Homo sapiens: one gene and its partners. The protein of the gene in region 1 interacts with the protein of each later gene in a pairwise test. Each region holds a gene or a part of one and is shown in the gene's direction. Other genes may lie near its edges.

Region 1 (7,150 bases):
GAAATTCAACAAAAGGCTGTCTAGCTGTCAAGATATCAAGTAGTCATGTCCTCTATTCAAGGTCAGATGGTATGTTAATAATGGGGAAAGAGAACCAGGTTTTCAGACATTTGGTGCTTCTGCAGCACTCTCCAGAGTTCATTCAATACCCTGCACTGATATAGTATGTTATACTTGTCAAGACATTCTTGCATACAGGGTAAAATGCTTCATTGCACAATTTAACAAAAACATATCTTTGCTACAGTAATAAATGTTGGGGGGGGGCAGAGAGGAGACTCCTAAAACAAGCTTTTTAAAGTTAATCTTGATTTTGAAGATTCTAAAATTATAGTCATGAATCTAGTCTGGTCAGTGATAATCCCACTAAGAAAAAAACATTCTTAAGTTTATAATGGGTCATCACATTCCACATTACATAAACAAAGAAAAGCCAAATTCAGGCCCGGCACGGTGGCTCACGCCTGTAATCCCAGCACTTTGGGAGGCCGAGGCGGATGGATCACCTGAGGTCGGGAGTTCGAGGCCAGCCTGACCAACATGGAGAAACCTGTCTTTACTAAAAATACAAAATTAGCCGGGCGTGGTGGCACATGCCTGTAATCCCAGCTACTCAGAAGGCTGAGGCAGGAGAATCGCCTGAACCCGGGAGGCGGAGGTTGCGGTGAGCCAAGATCATGCCATTGCACTCCAGCCTGAGCAACAAGAGCGAAACTCCGTCTCAAAAAAAAAAAAAAGCCAAATTAAAAGTCTTGTTTTACTTGTTCTGCAGATCAACAAATCATTACTGAGATGTGAGGGAGGGAATAAGGGACTAGGTTGTTATCAAATCTTCTTTGGCCAATTCTCTAAACCCTGTATAGTCATCATTCACATGAAAAAAATACTGTTTGCTTCATTTGAGAGATTAAAAAAAGCAGCATCAAAGACTATATAATTACTAACCATTTTGTACTTTGACACTATCCTTAGGCAATAACCTATATATCTATCTCTTCTTTAAGGCTAATGTCCAGATCCCAAATAATATTTAGAATTTATGATTCTTCACTCTGCTCAGCGCTGTATCACAATGCTGAAGCAGCTAAAAACACTTTTATAGGAGGAAGTGTGTTTAGAGTCCAAAACAAGAAGTCTTAAATGTGTGCCAATCTTAGCTCTGCCATAGACTTAAATTTGATGACTTAAATCCCAATTCCTATGCTCAAATATCCACAGAAAAGGACCAACATTCACTTTTCTCAAAGGAATGTGGCCATGAGAGTGTAGTGAACTAACAAAGAGCCAAAGGAATTTATTGCAAAAAAAAAGGGGCTAAGGAAAAACATTAGACCTAGATACTTGGTAAACCCTTTGGGATTCTTCTGCATTTTGAAGTAACAATTCCCAAGAGAACAGACAGAGGTTGGGATGCCAAGACAAAGTCTTGACTTGTTTGAAATAAAAGCAAGAACAAAATTAACTCTTCAAATCAAGGTATAGATGAAAGAACAGATTCCATTCCAGGTGGTCAGGACAACAGAATTGAGAAATTTTGTTCCTAAGGAGTATCTCAGAGAAAAATGATTTTAGGGAGACTGAGAGCTCAAGGCAGTAGGGGAGGAACAAGAGTAGTCTTTTGTTTCTTGGCAAGTTGTGGTGTGTGGAATTCAAGTAGGAAAGAGGACTGGACTCAGTCTATGCGATGTCAAGCTCAGAATCTGGAGTAGACCTCCAAGATCACCTGGTTTAATTCTCTATTCTCAATCAACCTCTACTTTATTGCACCCATCATTCCTATCTGTGATGTCATCTCAACATCTGCTAGCACCAGCAAAGTATAAATTACAAACGAAACAGTTCCCTCCCTCCCATCTTAATAGATTAGGAAATAAGGGCCCAGAAGGGAGAAGTCCCTTCCTAGGCCCAAAAGGGAGAAGTAACTTCCTAAAGCCACATGATTAATGAGTTCTTCCTTGGGGATTCCAGGATCTTTTAGCACTGTTCTCAAGGACTCAAGAAAGGGTGTAAACAGGTTTATATTTATTAAGTGCCTAAGTTAGAAGCATTGTGGTAGGCACTTTCACATACATCATGTTTACACAGAGATAAAAATAATTGCAACCTTGAGTCCTGACTTTTTATTATGTAGGGTTTCTCTAAGACAAGCACAGGCTTTGGAATCAGAAAGACCAAGGTTCTACCAGTTGGGAAAGGTATTTTTCTTCTCTGAACTTGTATTCCTCCTGCATTTGGAAAGGTATAACACCACGTACTTCACAGGGTTGTTTTGAGGGTTAAAACATTATCAACCACAGGGAATGGTTCACAGAAGATACACAGTTACTGGTAACTATTGTTACCACTCCCGAGGGGACAACTATGGTAAACTGCAAGAATGTGGGAACGGAAGTTGAAACCGCCATTCACTAGCTGTGCAACACTGAGCCTGTCGGTCAGCAGGCAGTGGGAGGGGGGTTATAAAGATGGGCAAGGGACGCCGACTTGTAAACAAACACTGCCATTACAAGGTGAAGAGTGCTGTAACTGAGTTCGGTTCCCTGGACTCAAGGGCGGGAAGTGGTAACCTCAGCTTCCCTATCTGTAGACTGGGAGCATCAAATGAGATGACAACAGAGAGCCTGTATAAAGCTCAAAGCACACAACACTGCTGTTGTGAGCAAGGAGTAATGGAACAGAGGAGGGGCGTCCACCTGCCTCCTGGGACAGGGTCTGGGCGGCAACAGGGCGGGCCCGCTCGCTCCCACAGGGGGCGGTGGTGCTGGGGACCTTCCCACAGGTGCCGACCCCCAGCTGCGCCGCCGGTAACCGACAGGCCAAGCCAGCCGCCTCCGCCCCCGCTCGCCGCACCACGGCGGAAGTGGCAGCCTGAGCGGTTGGCGGGTGTCGGAAGGGGAGGGCGGGGGGAGACCGTGCGCAGCGGCCTATGGCCGTGAAGTGGCGGGACCGCCGGGGGTCTCACCTGAAGCAGGGAGGGTCCTCCAACACCAGCACGCGGCAAGAGAAAGATGGCTGCCTCAGCCGAGACAGAGAAAGACGACGGCGGCGGCGGCGGCGGCGGGAGCAGATCCACGTGATACAGCCGACCCCGCCTCTCCCTCTCCGGGGCAGCCTATCCCGGGAGCGAACATCTGAACTCCAACGCCCCGCCTGCTTTGCGCATCCCTCTTAGTGCTAGTGGCGGCAGGTGCAGGTGGCCGCGCGGCATCCTGGGGCTTGCAGTCTCCCGAGCGTTCTGTTGTGTCCCTGCCTACAATTTTAGGGAACCTAATAAAAGGGTGGTCGGTATGTTTTTATTTGGGTGTGTACTTTTGTTAGGTCGCTTTTTCGCTATGCATTAAGTACGGACTTTAGGACTCAACTAGTACCAGGAAGAAAAAGACCGGACATTTTCACCTGTTTGTTATACAGCGAAGGGGAAAAATTGGGAAGAAATCCTCAAGCTACAAGAAAAATAACCAGAAGCTTTACACTTTAGCCTGCAGTGACTTATATCCTGGTGTCCTAAGTCCACCTAAGTCAGTTTTGCAATAAGAGGTCCCAAGTTTGGTTTTCTTGGAGCTTGCATCAGTTGGTTGCATCATCCCTGAGTAGAAGATTTGCGGTTGCAAGGAAAAATAAGGTACAGAGCTTCTCCAGCGGGAAAGTGCATGTCTGCACGGCACGAGCCCACGCACCGCAGAACAGGCTTGCCAGGTCTCCTCAGAGACCCTCGCAGGAACCTAACAATGAAATCCAGTTGTCCAGTCTTGATTTGTGGAGGGGTAAGGAGAATCCGAGGCCAGTGGGCAATCCGCCCACTGTTGGGAGCGACTGACCTCACGAATCAATAATTTGCTTTTGACTAGGAAGTGCAGCGGTTCTTGGGGGGAGGGGCTGGACTGGGTGGCGGACGCGAGGAGCAACGGTTCTCCCGAACCTCTCCCCCGCCCCTACTATCTTGGCCTACATTTTCCCGCTCCGTCCCGGGACCTGGACACCCAGAATCCACGAAAAGCAACTCGCGCTCGAGAACAGCTCTCGTACCCTTCTACGTGATCTGCACCTTTAAGCTCACTCCATCCCAAACCGGACCCCGGAGGCACCACCCACATCCGTCTAACATCACTTCCTTCAGAGTTTGAAAAAAAAAAATCTGGGAAGTAGAGGTGTTGTGCTGAGCGGCGCTCGGCGAACTGTGTGGACCGTCTGCTGGGACTCCGGCCCTGCGTCCGCTCAGCCCCGTGGCCCCGCGCACCTACTGCCATGGAGACGCGGCCTCGTCTCGGGGCCACCTGTTTGCTGGGCTTCAGTTTCCTGCTCCTCGTCATCTCTTCTGATGGACATAATGGGCTTGGAAAGGGTCAGACCGCGTTCTTATCTTCTCTTTACTGATCTTTACTATACTGATCCCAGTATAATCTCTTCTTGCCCTAGCACCGTTCCCCTCCCATTCTAACTCTTAGGCCACTCCAGATTTCTTTTTATCTTCCCCAACCGCTCCTGGAGTTTGAAGATTTCTTGGGGTAGAGAGTAGCGGGTCTGGGGAATGGAGAAGTTGTACTTGAGGCCTCTCTAAATTATTGGATTGGGGGGAAGGAATGGCCCGTAAATTAAGGAAAGCATGTTAAGAGCCCAGCATAGTGCCTAGCACTTGGGAGGTCCTGAGGAACGGTCACCTTCCCACCTGGGAGAAATAGAGCCGTTGGGGACCTGCATATGCAGAGGACCCTGTTCTGGGTCTGAAGATTTCTCTCGTTACTTCTTCCGCGAAGAGCTAGGTTACTGCCACTTGCTTGCCTTTGGGAAACAGCACCTGCATCCCAGGTAGCTGTATCTAGTGCATAAGAAGAGCCAAGCGAATGGTAGAAGGTCTGCTGTTTAAGGGTCCCCAACAATTGTCCTTGCTGTGGTTCAGCGAAGTTTTTTTGTAAGTGAGCGATCAGTGGTTATGAATGGAGGTTAGGAGGTGTGGCCCCCTACTCCATCCATTACCTACATCTCCATTCTAAGTTTTAACACCTCTCTCCTCATCAGCCCTTACTTAGTTGAAAGTTGGACTGACAGTCTGTGAACTCAGAGTTTATGCTTTTCTAAGTAGATGAATTGTAGCATGGATCCCAACCCCTCTTCCTTTTTTTTTTTTCACTGACCTTACTGTATGGAATGATTCTGCTGCAATCCTTCTGTTTTTGTTTTCTCTTATCCTCTCTATTTTCACATCTATTGGTGAGTAATAAGATTGGGTGGGCATTCATTTTGCCTGAATGCAATCATTCCTTCATTCCGTAAATAATTTTTGATCACCTCCTATATTTCAGGCACTGTCCTAGGCACTAGGGATATAGCTGTAAACAGGACAGACAAGGTTCCTACTCTGGTGGAGCTTATATTCATGTCAGAGAGACAGAGTAGACTCATGAACAAATTAATAAGACAGTTTCAACTAGGAACAAGTGCTGGGAAAACAATAAGACTGTGATGGAATAGGAAGTAGAAAGGCTGGGGAGGTTGGTGGAGCTGGCATCACTTGAATTATGAAGGTCAGGAGAAGCTTTTTGGAGAAGGTGATATGTGGGTTTCCATCTCAGTGATGAAACTGCATGACAAATCCTGTTAGGCCAGAATGTTTTAAATACTGACAATCCCATTTTAAAACAGACTACCGTTTTTTTTTGTTGTTGTTTTGTTTTGTTTTTTAGACAGAGTCTCACACTGTTGCTCGGGCTGGAGTCCAGTGGCATGATCTTGGCTCACTGCAACCTCCGCCTCCTGGGTTCAAGCGATTCTCCTGCCTTAGCCTCCCGAGTAGCTGGGATTACAGGTGCCTGCCACCACGTCTGGCTAATTTTTTGTATTTTTAGTAGAGACGGGGTTTCACTATGTTGGCAAGGCTGGTCTCAAACTCCTGACCTCATGATCTGCCCGCCTCGGCCTCCCAAAGTGCTGGGATTACAGGCATGAGCCACTGCGCCCAGCCAGCTACTGTATATTTAAAGTTGTAAGTACTGAGAGTAACAGAAGAGTAGAGTGTTGGGTACGTGGGTTTAGATCTGAGTTTTTTCTTTGCTGTTTTTTCTGTTTGTTTGTTTGCTTTTGTTTTTGAGACGGAGTCTCACTCTGCCAGGCTGGAGTGGAGTGGTGCAATCTCGGCTTACTGCAACTTCTGCCTCCCGGGTTCAAATGATTCTCCTGCCTCAGCCTCCCAAGTAGCTGGGACTACAGGCATGTGCCACTATGCCCAGCTAATTTTTTTTTTTTTTGTATTTTTTTGTATTTTTAGTAGAGATGGAGTTTCACCATGTTGGCCAGGCTGATCTCAAACTCCTGACCTCAGGTAATCCTCCCTCCTTGGCCTCCCAAAGTATTGGGATTATAGGCGGGAGCCACTGCGCCAGGCCTAGATCTGAGTTTTAATTTGTTCTGCCACTCACTAGCTGAGTAGCCTTGGGCAAGTTTCTTAACTCTCAAAGCCTCCGTTCCTCATCTGCAAAATGGGCATCATAACTACCTCAGACACTCAACAAATAATTTGCTCTGTTCAAGTTACTGTGTTAGGTGTAGGTAATACCTTGGAATCAGGTATTTTGTATTTTTATTCCTTGTTAGATATTAAGCTTTGTGTGGTTGTTCCAGTTACCATTGTTGTGTAATAAATCACTCCAAAATTTAGTGGGCATGAAGAAATCATTTTATTATGCTCACAATTGTGTGAGTAAGGAATTCAAACAAGGCACACTGGGAAAGGCTTGTCCCTGTTCTATGATGACTGGGGCCTTGGCTAAGCTGGTTACCTCTCCATGTGATCTTTCCGCATGGGCTCCTATGGGTTTCCTCACAGTAGCTTTATGGGAGGCTGGATTCCAAGAGTGCGTGCCATAAGAGAACAAGGTGGAAATGCATGGCATTTTTGTCACCTAGCCTTACAAGGCACATAGCATCACTTCCACAGTACCCTGTAGGGGCAGATTCAAGGGAATGGAATATTAGGACCCCCACCCTCACCCCCAATGGGAGGTATGTTGAGGTCACATTGTAAGAAGGGCATATCTGCCACAGTGAACCAGGACTATTTCTGTCTTGTTCATGCTCAGGAATATTTGTTGAAAGAGGAAATGAATGATAAACATGATAATTGTGATTCCTGTCCTTTTTCAGCTTGCAGTCTGGT
Region 2 (7,498 bases), on another chromosome or scaffold:
GTGTCCCTGCCGTGTGGCCGCGTCACCCACCTCTGCCCTCGGTGTCCCTGCCCTGTGGCCGCGTCACCCACCTCTGCCCTCGGTGTCCCTGCCGTGTGGCCGCGTCACCCATCTCTGCCCTCGGTGTCCCTGCCGTGTGGCCGCGTCACCCACCTCTGCCCTCGGAGTCCCTGCCGTGTGGCCGCGTCACCCACCTCTGCCCTCGGTGTCCCTGCCGTGTGGCCGCGTCACCCACCTCTGCCCTCGGTGTCCCCGCCGTGTGGCCGCGTCACCCATCTCTGCCCTCGGTGTCCCTGCCCTGTGGCCGCGTCACCCATCTCTGCCCTCGGTGTCCCTGCCGTGTGGCCGCGTCACCCATCTCTGCCCTCGGTGTCCCTGCCGTGTGGCCGCGTCACCCACCTCTGCCCTCGGAGTCCCTGCCGTGTGGCCGCGTCACCCACCTCTGCCCTCGGTGTCCCTGCCGTGTGGCCGCGTCACCCACCTCTGCCCTCGGTGTCCCTGCCGTGTGGCCGCGTCACCCATCTCTGCCCTCGGTGTCCCTGCCGTGTGGCCGCGTCACCCACCTCTGCCCTCGGAGTCCCTGCCGTGTGGCTGCGTCACCCACCTCTGCCCTCGGTGTCCCTGCCGTGTGGCCGCGTCACCCACCTCTGCCCTCGGTGTCCCTGCCCTGTGGCCGCGTCACCCATTTCTGCCCTCGGTGTCCCTGCCCTGTGGCCGCGTCACCCACCTCTGCCCTCGGTGTCCCTGCCCTGTGGCCGCGTCACCCATCTCTGCCCTCGGTGTCCCTGCCGTGTGGCCGCGTCACCCATTTCTGCCTTCACATCCACACAGTGTTCTCCCTGTGCATGCGTCTGCATCCAAATGTCCCCTTTTTATAAGGACATTGGTTATTGCTCTAGGGACCCGCCGTACACTGGTATGATGTCATCTTACCAAATTCTGTCCGCCAAGATCTTATTTCCAGGTGAGGTCGCATTCCAAGGTCCTGGCAGTTAGGACTTCAGTGTATGGATTTGGGGGACACAGTTCAGCACACGACAGTATTCAGCCCCTGGAGCCGCCTGTCAGCGTGGCTGCGCGCAGAGGGTCCCTGGGGCCCAGCTGGGGAGTGGGACCTGGCGGCAGAGACCCCTTGCACTGTGCTGGCTCAGAAGGAGGAGCCGTGGCCTCCTGGGTGCTGGGTCAGAGTTTCCTTGTAGGTGTTTGTGGCTTTAGTCACTTCTTGGAGAGCAGATCTGGGCACAGAGCAGAGAAGAATAAGAAATTATCCAGAGGCAGCTGTCACTGTAGAAGATTCCTTCAGGCCTCGCCCTTCCTCGTCCATCCCGAGGCTGGCGGCCTCTTGGCCAGGCCCTGTCTGACCCAGCCTGAATCCGAGCGTCTGATCTCAAACCTGTGCTTCTCCTCACGGTGGTTCCCCAGCTCCTGAGGCCTCAGGCCTGCCCCTTGCCTCATGCGTCTTGGCACACAGAGTGCAACTAAGAATAAGGTCCACTATGCACGGGCTGGGCCCGGCCCCGGAGGAAGGCCGGTGACACACAGCCCCGCCACCCTGTATGTCAGCCAGTGAGGGACAGAGATGGGGAAGACCCAGCTGCTCAGAGACACCAGAGGCCCTGGACAGGGAGTGGATTCCAGGGAAGGCGGCTGCCCAGCCCAGCCCGGAAGGAGCAGGTGGAGAAGGGAGGCCCAGCCAAGGGAACCTCATCGCAAGAACAGAGGATGGGGGTCCCATCCCACGGCCAGGGCCTCCCCAAGGGCTGCCCCTCCATGCGCCAGCACCACAGCAACCCCTCTCCATGCCTGCTTCTGGCCTCAGAGCAGGTTCTCCAAATGCTCCCAGTGAAACTGCACAGCCGGGCAGCGTTTCTGGAATAGCCTCAGCATGTGTTGATCTGGACACGGAGGGTGCACCAGCACCCGTCCACGTACCTGCCTGTGTGGGGGTGTTCACTCAGCGTTGTGCACGCCTGGTCTCGTACCCCTCCCCCCCCCCCCGATGGGGAGGTGCTGTCGCCATCCATGGGGGACAGAAGAGGAAACTGAGGCTCAGCAGAGTTAAGTCGCTTCCCCTAGGTCACACTGCCAAAAACAGCCAACCGAGGTCTATGCCACGAGACTCACCACGAGGAATCATGATTTTTTTTTTTTGACATGGAGTCTCACTCTGTTGCCAGGCTGGAGTGCAGTGGTGTGATCTCAGCTCACTGCAACCTCCAACTCCCTGGTTCAAGTGATTCTCCTGCCTCAGCCTCCCGAGTAGCTGGGATTACAGGCACGTGCCACCATGCCAGCTAATTTTTGTATTTTTAGTAGAGATGGGGTTTCACCGTGTTTGGCCAGGATGGTCTCTGTCTCCTGACCTCGTGATCTGCCTGCCTCGGCCTCCCAAAGTGCTGGGATTACAGGCGTGAGCCACCACGCCTGGCAGAATCGTGATATTAACAACAGATATCGCAGGGCGCCAAGCGCTGGGCTGACAGCTTCCGGGTTATTTTTTCCCCGACCCCTGACAGCAGCCACAATGGAGCTCCCCATTTTACAGACATGGAGGCGGAGGCTCAGGCCGAACAACCCGTCCGAGCTCACAGGCTTTGCAGGCCACGATCCGGGAACCGCCTGGCCTCTCCCTCACAACCCGGCTGGCTTAAAACAACCAAGATTGATTTCCCTCGCAGTTCTGGAGGCCAGAAGTCTGAGATGAAGGTGCAGGCTGGGCCACGTTCCCTCTGAAGGCCCCAAGGGAGGCTCCGTCCTGCCTCTTCCAGCTGCTGGGGGCCAGCGAGCCTCACCTCTCTTCGTGTGGCCACATGGCCTCAGCCTCTGCCTCCGTCTTCACGCGGCCGTCTCCGTGCGGCCATGTTCAATCCCTGCATTAGGGCCACCACAGCGACCTCATCTCCACTTGTTTCCATCTGCAAAGACACAGACAAGGTCCCGTGCTCAGGTCCCAGGTGGACGTGACTAGCCCAGAACTTGGCTGCTCCAGCGGCGGGGGCGGGGGCGGCTGCTTCTCCACGCAGCTTGTTACATCTGAATGTTTAGAGTCACCATCGCCAGCCTTCGGGGGAAATGGAGGCACAGTGAGGCCAAGCCTTCCTGAGCTGGCGCCTCAAGGCAGCCGGCCAGCCTGCCCCGGGGGAAGCTCACGTCGGGGCTTCCTGCTCAGAGCCGTGAAGGTCACTGTGGCCGAGGCCCCTCCAAGTTGGCCCAGGCACCCAGGAAACCTGTGTGAAAGGTCTTGTACTAAAAAAAGACCTGTCCATAGACTACAGCTCCAGATTCCAGAACAGCCTCTCCTGATGTCACCATCTGGCACCCTTTAGAGCTTTGGCAGGAAACTGCAGGGACCACAGACATGAGCAGAAGCAGCTGTCAAGTCCTGGGAATGAGGAACAAGACAGGGTATCCGAGGGGGGACCAGGCGGATGTCCGAGGGGGAACCAGGAGGGTTTCTGAGAGGGAACCAGGAGGGTGTCCGAGGGGGCATCCAGGAGGGTATCCGGGGGGGAACCAGGCGGGTGTCCGAGGGGGGCACAGGCGGGTGTCCGAGGGGGGCACAGGCGGGTGTCCGAGGGGGGAACCAGGCGGGTGTCCGAGGGGGGAACTAGGCGGGTGTCCGAGGGGGGAACCAGGCGGGTGTCCGGTGGGGGAACCAGGCTGGTGTCCGCTGGGGGAACCAGGAGGGTGTCCGGTGGGGGAACCAGGCTGGTGTCCGCTGGGGGAACCAGGAGGGTGTCCGCTGGGGGAACCAGGAGGGTGTCAGGTGGGGGAACCAGGCGGGTGTCCGAGGGGGGCACAGGAGGGTGTCCGAGGGGGAACTAGAGGGGGGTCTGAGGTGGAATGAGGTAGGTAGGCCTCCCAGGGGGAACAAGACGGGTCCCCAAGAAGTCCCTGGGGGGAGTCCTCTGCAAGTCCTGTGAAACAGTGATACCAGGGCAGGCACACCTGGCCCCGTTGGGTACCTAAGAAATGCTTGCTGACATGCCACAAAAGAGGTAAATTGAGGAAAGGGGCAGTGGCTCTGGCTGAGGACAAGGTCTCTCCCTCTCAGCACTGTGGACATTGGGGCTGGATCGTTCTCTGGAGTGGAGCTGTCCTGGGCACTGCAGGGTGCTGGGCAGCATCCCTGGCCCCCACCCACCTCATGCCAGAAGCAGGGGCGGAGGGGACCTCCGTGGCGCCTCAGTACCACCCTGGGAGTGCTCAGGAGGCCCTGGGAGCACGCGGGTTCTCTAGGGCAGGCCCTGCTTGCCTGCTGGCCTCACACTTTCTGGCTGTGTGCATAGCCGGATTGGTGAGCTCTGGGCCTCAGGTCATCATCTGTGAAATGGGCGTATTAAGGCCTTTCTACCTGGGCTGTCCTGGAGCTGAGATCAGCCAGCACCCTTAAAGTGAGGCCCAGCTAGTTAGGGGCAGGCCTGGGGTGCCTGGAGTGGGGAGTGTGAGGGGGCCTGATGGGGGTTTTTCCTGCACCCCCAGGTATCACCTCTTCTGGGCTCAAGATGGACAACAAGAAGCGCCTGGCCTACGCCATCATCCAGTTCCTGCATGACCAGCTCCGGCACGGGGGCCTCTCGTCCGATGCTCAGGAGAGCTTGGAAGGTAGGTGGGTGCCTGCCACTTCCCCCTCTCCCCGGGCAGCGGCCAGCACAGTCGCCTCGTGTAGACACCTGGTGTGTAGATGCCTGGTCCCCCGCCTGGCTTTTTGGGGGTGGAAGCTAAGCCCAGAGAGGGCAGGGGTCTGCCCAGGGCCACACAGCCCCCGGCCGTGGGAGCCAGGGCCGAGCTGAGCCCTCCCGCCTGCCACTGCGTGGCGCCACCACTGCTTGATGCCTTCAGGCTGAGCTGCCTTCCAGTGGCTTTTTTCCATCTCCCCATCTTCCACCAAGGTGTGTTCTGGAATGTTCTCACCACCCAGTGTGTGTGTGTCACCATCGGTCACGGGGAAAAAGCTCTCCTAGTGCTGGCCCCGCCCCAGAGTCCCAGACTCGTTGGCATCCTGCATGGCCTGTCCGCTCCCCAGGTGCCTTGGTCTCCTGGCTGGTCTTGCTTGCGCTTCTGCGACACCTGGATCCGGGGCTCGGAGGGAAAGGAGGGCTCGGGGAGGCACCCTCGTGTGGCTGCAGGTTCTGCTCTAGGTCCTCCTTCCCCACCTATGCCTCGCTCACCTGTGTCCTGGGCCTGCCAGGCCTCTGTAGCATGGACACCCAGTGACAGCTGTAGGGATGTGCCCGGGGTCCTTGACACAGTGCTGGGCAGGAAGTGGCTGACCCCCACTTCTGACCTGGGTTAGGACCCTGGGTCCACACGAGGAGGCGGCCAGGGCTAGTGTTGTCTGGCTCGGTGGGAGGGCCCCCTGGGTGCTGAGTCTGTCAGGTGGGCCAGCAGAGAGAGGGGCCCTGTGGCTGTTTCTTGTCCTGCTCTCAATGGTCCTGCCCTGGTACAGACCCAGTCATACAGGCCTTCTACTGGGGGCTGGCTTCAAGCTCCTTACTCAGGCCAGGCGCCCTTGGAGGTGCAACAGCATCCGGGGCACCTCACCCCTGACGTGGCCCTCCAGGTGGGGCCAAGCCCCCACCACGCCGCAGCCGGGCAGCCCCAGCATTGGGACCCCACAGAGGCCTGAGGTCACCACCTGGGCTCCACTCTGCCCACGGCCTCTGCTGCTCTCAGGGGCACGGGGCGTCTCTGTCTGGCTTTTCTTTTCGGGAAGGAAGAGGGTCCACTGTCCCAGCCCAGAGCACAGGCGGCGGCCCCTGCGTTCTGGGGTCCTTGGGAATGAACACACCTGGGGAAGCATGAGCACCAACCCCGCCCTCTAGACCCAAAAACGTAACCTCGGGGCTGCGTGCAATGAATGGGACCGCCTCTGTCCCCGCTTCAGTCGCCATCCAGTGCCTGGAGACTGCGTTTGGGGTGACGGTAGAAGACAGTGACCTTGCGCTCCCTCAGACTCTGCCGGAGATATTTGAAGCGGCTGCCACGGGCAAGGTGAGCCTCGATGCTTCCCCAGCCACTGCCCCCAAAATAAGAACAGCAACAGCAGGCAGCCCTGGGGACCCCAGGAGCCCCGCTCTCATCGTCCCCCAGCACTCTGCCTGCATCCTCTCCTGGGCTGGGGACGTGGCTGCAGGAGCACTTGGCCCTCCTCCCCCTATCGGCGGGTCCTGAGACACATAGCGCTGTGGTCACTCGCCCAGGGCCACATGATGGGGGGCCAGGAGTCCCCTGCAGAGCCCCCGGGTCCTTCGGAACTTGGTGGCCCTCTCTGGCGTCCCGAGGGAAGCTAAGGCCGGAGGGTGCCAGGTTGGGAGGAGAGGACAGCGGGCCGCCTTTGCCTCCGGGTCCAGGAGATGCCGCAGGACCTGAGGAGCCCCGCGCGAACCCCGCCTTCCGAGGAGGACTCAGCAGAGGCAGAGCGCCTCAAAACCGAAGGTAAGGGAGGACCTCCATCCCCACAGACACCTCGCCCTACCTGGACTCCGGGGCTGTGGGACCCTCGCAGAGGCCAGCTGGTCCCTGGGGCCCAGGGAGCTGAGGGAATTGCCCTGATGACCAGCACGCTGGCTTGTGGGGACGGGGACGGAAGGGGGACTGGCGAGGGGACTGGCGAGGTGCAGAGAAACTTGACCTTCAGGCACAGCACGGCTGGTGGGGTTGTCGGGAGCGGCCCCTGTGGAAGACTGGCTGGTGGCCCCCAAAAGTTGCACAGCTTCCATGAGACCCGCCGGTTCCACCCTGATACTAGATATGTGCCCAAGAGAGACACATGTCCACCAAAACCCAGACACATGTTCACAGCAGCTGTATTCACAAGAGTCAAAAAGCAAGAAGAGGCCGGGCGCGGTGGCTCACACCTGCAGTCCCAGCTCTTTGGGAGGCCGAGGCGGGCAGATTGCCTGAGGTCAGGAGTTCAAGCCTAGCCTGGGCCAACATGGTGAAACCCCGTCTCTACTAAAAATGCAAAAAAATTAGCCAGGTGCAGTGGTGGGCACCTGTAATCCCAACTACTCAGGAGGCTGAGGCAGGAGAGTTGCTTGAACCTGGGAGGCGGAGGTTGCAGTGAGTCCAGATCGCGCCACTGCACTCCAGCCTGGGCGATAAGAGTGAAACTCCGTCTCAAAAAAAAATAAAAAATAAAAAATAAAACAATAAAAAGAAGCAAAAACAGCTTAAATGCCTGTCCACGCTAAATGGTCAGCACAGCATGGCCCATCTACACGGTGGAATGTGGATGGGTGAGGCTCTGACCCAGGCCCCAGCGCAGATGCACCGTGAAGACATCACACTCAGGGAGAGAGGCCAGACACAAAAGGACGCACAGCATGTGATCCCATTTCTTTTTTTTCTTTTTTGAGATGGAGTCTCGCTCTGTCGCCCAGGCTGGAGTGCAGTGGCGTGATCTCGGCTCACTGCAACCTCTGACTCCCTGGTTCAAGCAATTCTCCTGCCTCAGCCTTCTGAGTAGCTGGGACTACAGAAGCCTACCACCACG
Region 3 (7,758 bases), on another chromosome or scaffold:
GCTTACCTGATATACATTAGTGTGAAACCTATTTTTGGATACTTCCTGTACCAATTCCAACAGATTTTCAATTAAATTTTGCAGCAAACAATTTGCATTCATTTCTCCAGGAAGCTCAGATACGGGGTAATGGGGAGGTATGCTGTGTCGGAAGTAAAGTTGCTATCTTACAGACTACAAAAACAAGGAGGCAAGCATTTGAAGAGTAAATTGGATTCATGGAAACAATGGACTCCATCACTTAAGGATTGTCTATTGATCTGGAGCACAAGACGCACGTCACCCCATTTGACACCATAAAGCTTGTAATACATATCTTAATGTATTGACAAATCCATTTGCTAAACCGCAAAGTATCAAAAGAACATTTTGAAATGCTTCTTAATATATTATGCTGCTAAGTTTCTCCTAAGTCAAAATATTAAAAGCAAAATCCCTAATTTAAAATTAGTAAAGCAACTTAAACTAAGTCTTTAGGATAGAAAATGCGACTTTTTAGAAGGCCTTTATCTTCTTTAGTACCTAATTTTGAATGAGTGAATCTTTTCATACTTGCCATCTTTGCACTGGAAGGAATTACAAATATAGCATCTAATGGTTTTGTATTCTTCAGCGAAGTTAAGTCTTTTCTTTATAGGAGCAATTCTTAGCTCCCGGATACTTGCCATGAGATGTGTTTGTGCCTGCCATGTCATGTCATTAGTTCTATTGCAACATCTGATTTCAGCTCAATCTAAGGGATTTTTGCCACTAGCCACTGTCACGGACTTGTTCATCTGAGTGGTTCCATTTTCTTTACAAGTGATACATTCCATTTACTTACATTAGCTTTAGATTATGGTTACTAACATGCTTAAGGAATTGTTCTATCTTAACAGCATAGGAGGCAGATGGACTTTTGTAAGATCTCATTCCTCTGCCAAGGGTGTGAAGGGCTCAGCTAAAGAATGATGAAAACGTGGGTGGAGGTAATAACCTACGCAAGGGGAGGTCAACACCGTTGCATGTTCAGTCAGACCTTATGTCAAGGGAAATGAAAAAGAGAAGAGCTTGGTGGTCTTAGGTAGCCGCTCCTAATCCTTAGTGTCCTTCACTTGAGAAGATAGTGAAACTGAGAGTCAAAGGAAGAAGTGTTAAAAAGTTTCTTCCCCACTGTAATGTTGGATTTGGGCTCAGCCTGTCAAGCATTTTTGTTTACTTTCTCTTGTGAGCAGAGAGACAGGTTAAGGGTGGAGGCTGTATCTGGCTGAGGACCAGTTTTGGTGTGACATTTAACTCCAAGTAAGGCTGAATTGTATGTGGGTAATGTACTCTTTCCCAGTATACTTGTGAAGCCTACAAATGGGGGTGGTTGTGAAAAAAGAAAGGTTTGGGTTGACATTTAGCATGCTAGATGAGTCGAACCCCTTAAGCAAAGAATTATGATAGACAAAACTAACCCAGAGGAGGATGTGAGAGGGGCTATGGTTTGAAGTTATGTGCCTAGCTGTCAGACGGACACATCGTAATTTTTTAGTATTTATTTGTACACATAACACTATTTTGGGTGGGAAGATACAAAAGCAATAGAAAAAGTCCACCTCCCACCCCCCGCCTCAAAAGAGTTCCTGAAATGGCTGATGAGTCAGCCCTACTCACTGAGTTTGCATGCAGAAGGAAGTCAGGCCAAAGGTTTGGTAAAACCTAAGTCAGTATCTCCTGGCTCTAGGACTTAACCCAGTTCCTAGCAGAGTAAGGTATAACTGATGGCCACAGAAGTGTACAGAAATAATAGCAGCAACTAACATTTATTAAGTGCTTCCATTATACATTTATGTGCTATATACTTTACATCAATTATTTCACTTAATTCTTAAAACAACCTTGTAAAGTAGGAAGTTTTATTATGGCTCTGAACAGAACCATCATACAGAGAAGTTAGCTCATGCTGAAGTGTACTAAGGGTTTTTTGTTTGTTTGTTTGTTTGTTTTCTGGAACCCTTCACTAGGCTGCCAAGACACCTGCCTTGGATCTCCTTCTACTTCCCTGGTTGTTCCTTTACCATCGCCTTTGCTGAGTCCTCCTCCTCTTCTTTTTTAATGTTGGAGTGCCCCAGGGCTTACTTCTTGGTCTACTTCTTTTCTCTAGCTACATAATCTAGTTGATCTCAATACCCATCTGTATACTAACAACTTCCAAATTTATATCTACCCCAGATACATATATCTAATTGTCTACACCTATCTTCACATGGATGTTTAACAGACATCTCAAACTTACCATATCTAAATCAGAGTTTACAAATACAATCTCCACCCCGCCCTCCAATATTTGTTCTTTCTCAATATCCCCAATCCCAGTAAAGGGCAACTCAATTCTCCCCAGAGATCAGAACAAAACCCTTAGGATCATCTTTCTTTTATATGCTAATCTGTCAGCAGTTCCTGAGTACTTTACCTTCTAAACAGATTCAGAACCTGTTCACTTTTCTCAGTCACTCGGACTCTAATCCAAGCCATCCTTACCTTTCATCCCAGCTAGGCTAATCTCTTTGCTTGCTCTCTTGCCTCGCTATGCATGTTGCCCATACAGCAATCAGTCATCTTTTTTTTTAAAAAAAACTTTGTATTATGAACTTTTATTTATTTATGAATTTTGAGACGGAGTCTCGCTCTGTTGCCTGGGCTGGAGTGCAGTGGCCCGATCTCGGCTCACTGCAACCTCCGCCTCCTGGGTTCGAGTGATTCTCCTGCCTCAGCCTCCTCAGTAGCTGGGATTACAGGCACCCACCACCACACCCGGCTATTTTTAGAAGAGACGGGATTTCGCCATGTTGGACAGGCTGGTCTTGAACTCCTGACCTCAGATGATCCGCCCGCCTCGGCCTCCCAAAAAGTGCTGGGATTACAGGCGTGAGCCACCGCGCCCGGCCCATTATTATCTTTTAAAACATACACATAAACACACATAAATGATGACCACCCCTATGCACCCAACACTTAGCCTCAAAAATTAACATTTTGCAAATATTCATCTATTCACTTCTCTGTCCTTTTTTTTTTTTTTTTTGAGACGGAGTTTGTTTCGCTCTTGTTGACCGGGCTGGAGTGCAATGGCACGATCTCGGCTCATCGCAACCTCTGCCTCCCTAGTTCAAGCGATTCTCCTGCCTCAGCCTCCCGAGTAGCTGGAATTACAGGCATGCACCACCATGCCCGGCTAATTTTTTGTATTTTTAGTAGAGACGGGGTTTCTCCATGTTGGTCAGGCGGATCTCGAACTCCCGACCTCAGGTGATCGGCCCGCCTCGGCCTCCCAAAGTGCTGGGATTACAGGCGTGAGCCACGGCGCCCGACCTCTGTCCTTCTTTTTGTGGGATATTTTCAAACAAATCCCAGAAAAGTCATCCTTTTAATGATCAGATCAAGCTACTCACCACTTTCTAATTGCTTCTAATCTCAGTAAAAGCCAAGTCCTTTATCACGGCCTGCAAGGCCTGGGTGATCTGTGATTACTCCTCGCCACACCCATTCCTGCCGCCGTCCTCCTGACCTCACTCTGCTTCATTAGAGGGTCTCCCACCCTCGCGGCCCCAGCAAGCATCATCTGGAAAGCTTGTTAAAGCACACGCTGCTGGGCCCCACCCCCAGAGTTTCTGGTTCAGTAGGGCTAAAGTGGGACTGGAAAATTCGCATCTCTAACAAGTTCGCAGGTGCTACTGCTTCCAGCGGGCATACTTGGAGAACCACCAGCTGCACTGTTCTCCTTCCCGTTCCTCAACAAGGCAGGCAGGATCTTGCTTAGCAGTCTCCACGCTGCTCTTCCCTCTGCCCTAGGCATTCTTTGCATTACTCAAAGCCCCTGTTATTCCATCTCTTTAACTCATGCCTTTTGAGAGGCCTTCTCTGACCACTCTTTCTAAAATCTCTTTCCCTCTCCTCATCCTCATTTATGTTTCTTCATGGTAAGCATCACTTACTGTTTCCGTCACCCCGTCTAGATGGACAGCTCCACAAGCAGAAAGACTTGGTTTTGCTGTCACAGCCGCAGCACTAAAACCTTGCTTAGCAGGTGCTCACTTCACTTGTCCAAGGAATGGCTAGCATACTGAGGAGGGAGAGCCTGCTTCCTGCCTGGGACACTGGACAGGCAAATCACTTCTTCTTGCCTCAGTGCCACCCTTTGTAAGGACACTGGTTGGTTATGCCTACCCTTCCCATCTCCCTGGGTACAGGCACAAATGAAAAGAATAACGTGTACACGCCCGCGAAGCAGAGCAGCAAGTGGATACCGAGCATTATTACGCCGTGCGTTCGGCCGCCCTTTTTCTGCACGGAGAACCCCCTCCGCTCCCATTTTCCAGCGCCCCCGTCCCGGCGATCCAGAGACCCGCTGTGGGCGGCCGCCGCCCGCGTCCCGGCCTGCGGGCCAGCGTCTGGGCACGCCCGCCCCGCACCCGGCTGGCGCCCGCCCGCCCGCCTCCAGAAGCAGAAGCGGCAGCGGCAGCGGCAGCAGCAGCAGCAGGAGGAAGGGGAGGCGCCGAGGGAGGGGTACTCGGCCGCCGCGGGAGGCCGCATCGCAGTCCCGTCACAGCGTCGGCGCCGGCCGGGGCCGAACCCGGAAGTGGCCGAGCCCGCGCGCCCGCCGGTCCCGTCGCCGCCGCCCCGCACTCGGGCGAGCGCGGGAGCCGCGCAGTAGACGGAGCGCGCCCGGCCGAGCGGGCCATGGCCGCGGGGGCCGCCGCCGCAGGTGGTGGCGCGCGGTGAGGAGAGCGCGGCGCCCCCTCCGGGGCGGATGGAACGCGGCTCGGCGGGCGGGCAGTGCCGGCGTCCGCGGCTGGAATGGTGCTGGCTGTGTTGGTCGGTGCCTGCGTTCTGAAGCCCGAGAGGAGCCACAATGGAGACGCCGCCGCTGCCTCCCGCGTGAGTGAGCGGGCGGGCGGGCTGCGCCGCTGCGGATAAGCGCGCCGCTGCGGCGCGTGTCGCCGGCCGCGGGCGCAGCTCTGGGGACAGCCGCCGGGGCCGGCGGGAGGTGGGAGATGCGGGGCGTGACGAGGCGCTGTGCCCGCAGTCCTGAGCGGACGCGGACGGAAACTCAGCCTGGCCAGGCGGTGACTTAAAACGCTGCCCAGGATTTCTGGGGAAGGGTCTTCCCCATCTCGGGCGGATAGAAGATTCGGGGTGGGGCTGTGCATGGGTGACCCTGCAGGTCCTGTGTGTACCTCCCTGAAATGCATGGGCACCTGGTGCCGAGTTTGCCTACCCCTTTATAAGAGATCAGGCTAGGATGCACTGAGTCCGTTGAAAAAAGGAAACTGGAAAGTACCAGTCACCCGCTGTCTAAATGAATTGATCTTAGGTTGCTTGATTCCCCGAATTTCTAACAAAATTAATATCTGAGGAGCTTTTGCATCACTCTAAATGAGCGGCGGCCGTTCAGGGCATGTGACCTCTTTTACCTGGCACTGCAGAACGTTTTATCCAGAAATCAGCATCTTCTGTTTCGTTCGTACCTCGGGCAAATTAGTAGCGTATCGACCTGCCAGGCACAGGTGTCTTTTTTCTTTGGTACCCAAGTACATTCAAGATCACTGGCAACAGAATTACTTTCTAGAAATAATAGCTGAAACATTATGTAGAAGACATTATTGCATTATTCAGAACAAGGGTTTTTTTTTTAAATTTTAGTTTTTAGTTTTAAAAACATCTTGGTAAAAGTGAACTGTAAATACCCAGGAGTTTCGAAAATTTCAATTTTGGTTCCCTCTTCTCTTAGGAAGGAACAAGAGTCCTTTGAATCTGACTTTTCAAATCGCAGACAAACCTCATCCTGAAGAATGGTTTACCTTTTCATGAGAGCTTATTCATGGAGGCTTGTCGTTCTCCGGTCAAATTTGGCAAGCTTCACTCCATGCCGATTGTACCGCACCAGTCTCTTGTGGTTATTTGGCAGAATTCCAGCCAAAATAAGGATACTTGGCTTGGGTTGAATAATTTTTTGATGTTCAGCCCTTTTAGGAGAGCTAATGGGATTCTGGAACGACAGTTTCTAAAAGTGCGTTTCAGAATTTTTAGCTTGAGTGGAACAGGTCGTGGAAATCTAGGGGGTAGATAAGACTCTTGAATTGGCCTTCCTGGGCTGACAGAAGCAGGGGCTTAGTCACCTCTCGATAGCTGTGGCTTTGAGGGCTCTGAGATTTGGTCATGTTCTTCAGCAGGCTGGAGGAAGGCACCTGAACCCCTAGGAAATATGATGGTGGATGGTTCACATCAGCAGCATGAGCACACGGGGGTCTGCCCAGGCTCAGAAGCACTTAAAGCAGGATATGCTAGCTGTATTTAGCCAACATATGGTATATAATATGTAACATGTAGGTATGCTATCTGTAGTAAACCTGCCTTCTACATAAGTTCCTGCAGTTCGTTTTTACTTTTGGAACAGAGGGAGCTAAAGGAAAGAACAAGGGAATACTTAGAATGCAGGTGAAAAGAAGGGTGTGGGAAAGCAGCCTCTGGAGGGAGGGAGGGAATAGAGACACAGATGATTTAAATTGAAATAATAAAAAATAGAATTGATGTATGCATTGAAACATTGATAAACTGACTCTAGGGTAGATCAGCTAATCATAATTTTGATGACCAGCGCCATTTTTGGCATTGAGATTCCATCAATAGTGCTGGAACAATGAGAGGCTGAGATATAATGGAAAACTTGGAATGCCAGCATGGATGAAAGAATTGTTAAAACTCCTTTCAATCAGGGGTGGCTAAAGTTGGTGAGACTTTTTCATTGTTTCTGTCTATTTAATTATAAATACAAGTAGGTTTTTATTTTCATTTGGTTCTGTCCAGGATTAAACCTAATTCAAGAACTCGTTATGGTGTTATTTGCCATTCTGTGGATCAGAAATAGTTTTTTTCCTTGCCACCCCTTGGCCTGTTTGCCTCCACTCCCATTAACATCCCTCCACCATGGATCCCGTGTGCCGGATTTGAGACTTGCAGGCAGTGTCTTTAGGAAGGAACTTTACCGGGCCTCACTGCCAGAGCTGGGCTAGAACAGAGGCCAGTGGAAACTATTAGGAAGACTCAGCTTTTCATGAAGTTAGATTTTTAGCCTGAGCTTTAAGTCAAAGAAAGATGACCTGGACTTAAAGTGCCTTATGGTATGGTTGGAAGCACGGCCCCAGATTCTCTTTGTGTAAGTGTCTGTTTATTAATTCATTCAATGTGCAAATATTTGAATGCCTGTCTCTGCCTGGCACTGTGCGTGGTGCTTTTGCTTGTGTTCTCTTTTAACATCCAAATTTACATTGTTCTCAGATCCCACCTTGTTCTCCACTGGCCTGTTGGCACATTGTCTTGGAGGGAGGTCAGGCATCTGTACCCACCATTCCTGGTTCCTTCAGGATGGACTCCTTGAAATTAGCTTTTGATCTTTTGTGCTTTTTCTATTCCTTGCCTCCAACTTTCATCCTTTTTAATTCTCATATAATTAAAAATTGTCGTTGGACTATATATTTGTGCTTATTGTTTTTTGCATACTTGAGTATATGTGGCATTTAGATTCTGTTGCATTCTGGGTCTGGGTGATATTGAGACTGTGTTACATTTGCTTCTGATCAAACCTGAAAGATGTGTAACTAAAAGATGTAGCTTAGTAAAGGAATTTCAGGTAGTAAATTGAGAGATGTAGTTTAGATGTAGATTAGTAAAGGAATTTCAGATGGTAAACTGAGATGTGCAAAAGGAAATGTAAATTGACCAGCCCTGACCTCA

What was found. The genes of interacting proteins can lie anywhere in the genome.
Region 2: the proteins of TXNDC12 (region 1) and SGTA interact in binary tests that used the Homo sapiens proteins (3 or more experiments, as listed by UniProt).
Region 3: the proteins of TXNDC12 (region 1) and KLHL2 interact in binary tests that used the Homo sapiens proteins (3 or more experiments, as listed by UniProt).

What each region holds. Positions count from the first base shown.
Region 1 is NC_000001.11:52,052,192-52,059,341, reverse strand, and holds the start of TXNDC12 (thioredoxin domain-containing protein 12 precursor), read left to right. Parts: upstream 1-4,150; 5' UTR 4,151-4,245; coding exon 4,246-4,342; intron 4,343-6,658; exon of another isoform or gene 6,659-6,935; intron 6,936-7,150. UniProt on the Homo sapiens protein: Protein-disulfide reductase of the endoplasmic reticulum that promotes disulfide bond formation in client proteins through its thiol-disulfide oxidase activity.
Region 2 is NC_000019.10:2,766,076-2,773,573, reverse strand, and holds part of SGTA (small glutamine-rich tetratricopeptide repeat-containing protein alpha), read left to right. Parts: intron 1-4,482; 5' UTR 4,483-4,505; coding exon 4,506-4,605; intron 4,606-5,887; coding exon 5,888-5,994; intron 5,995-6,353; coding exon 6,354-6,438; intron 6,439-7,498. UniProt on the Homo sapiens protein: Co-chaperone that binds misfolded and hydrophobic patches-containing client proteins in the cytosol. Mediates their targeting to the endoplasmic reticulum but also regulates their sorting to the proteasome when targeting fails.
Region 3 is NC_000004.12:165,203,001-165,210,758, forward strand, and holds the start of KLHL2 (kelch-like protein 2), read left to right. Parts: upstream 1-4,560; 5' UTR 4,561-4,821; coding exon of another isoform or gene 4,822-4,876; coding exon 4,877-4,902; intron 4,903-7,018; exon of another isoform or gene 7,019-7,142; coding exon of another isoform or gene 7,143-7,180; intron 7,181-7,758. UniProt on the Homo sapiens protein: Substrate-specific adapter of a BCR (BTB-CUL3-RBX1) E3 ubiquitin ligase complex that mediates the ubiquitination of target proteins, such as NPTXR, WNK1, WNK3 and WNK4, leading most often to their proteasomal degradation.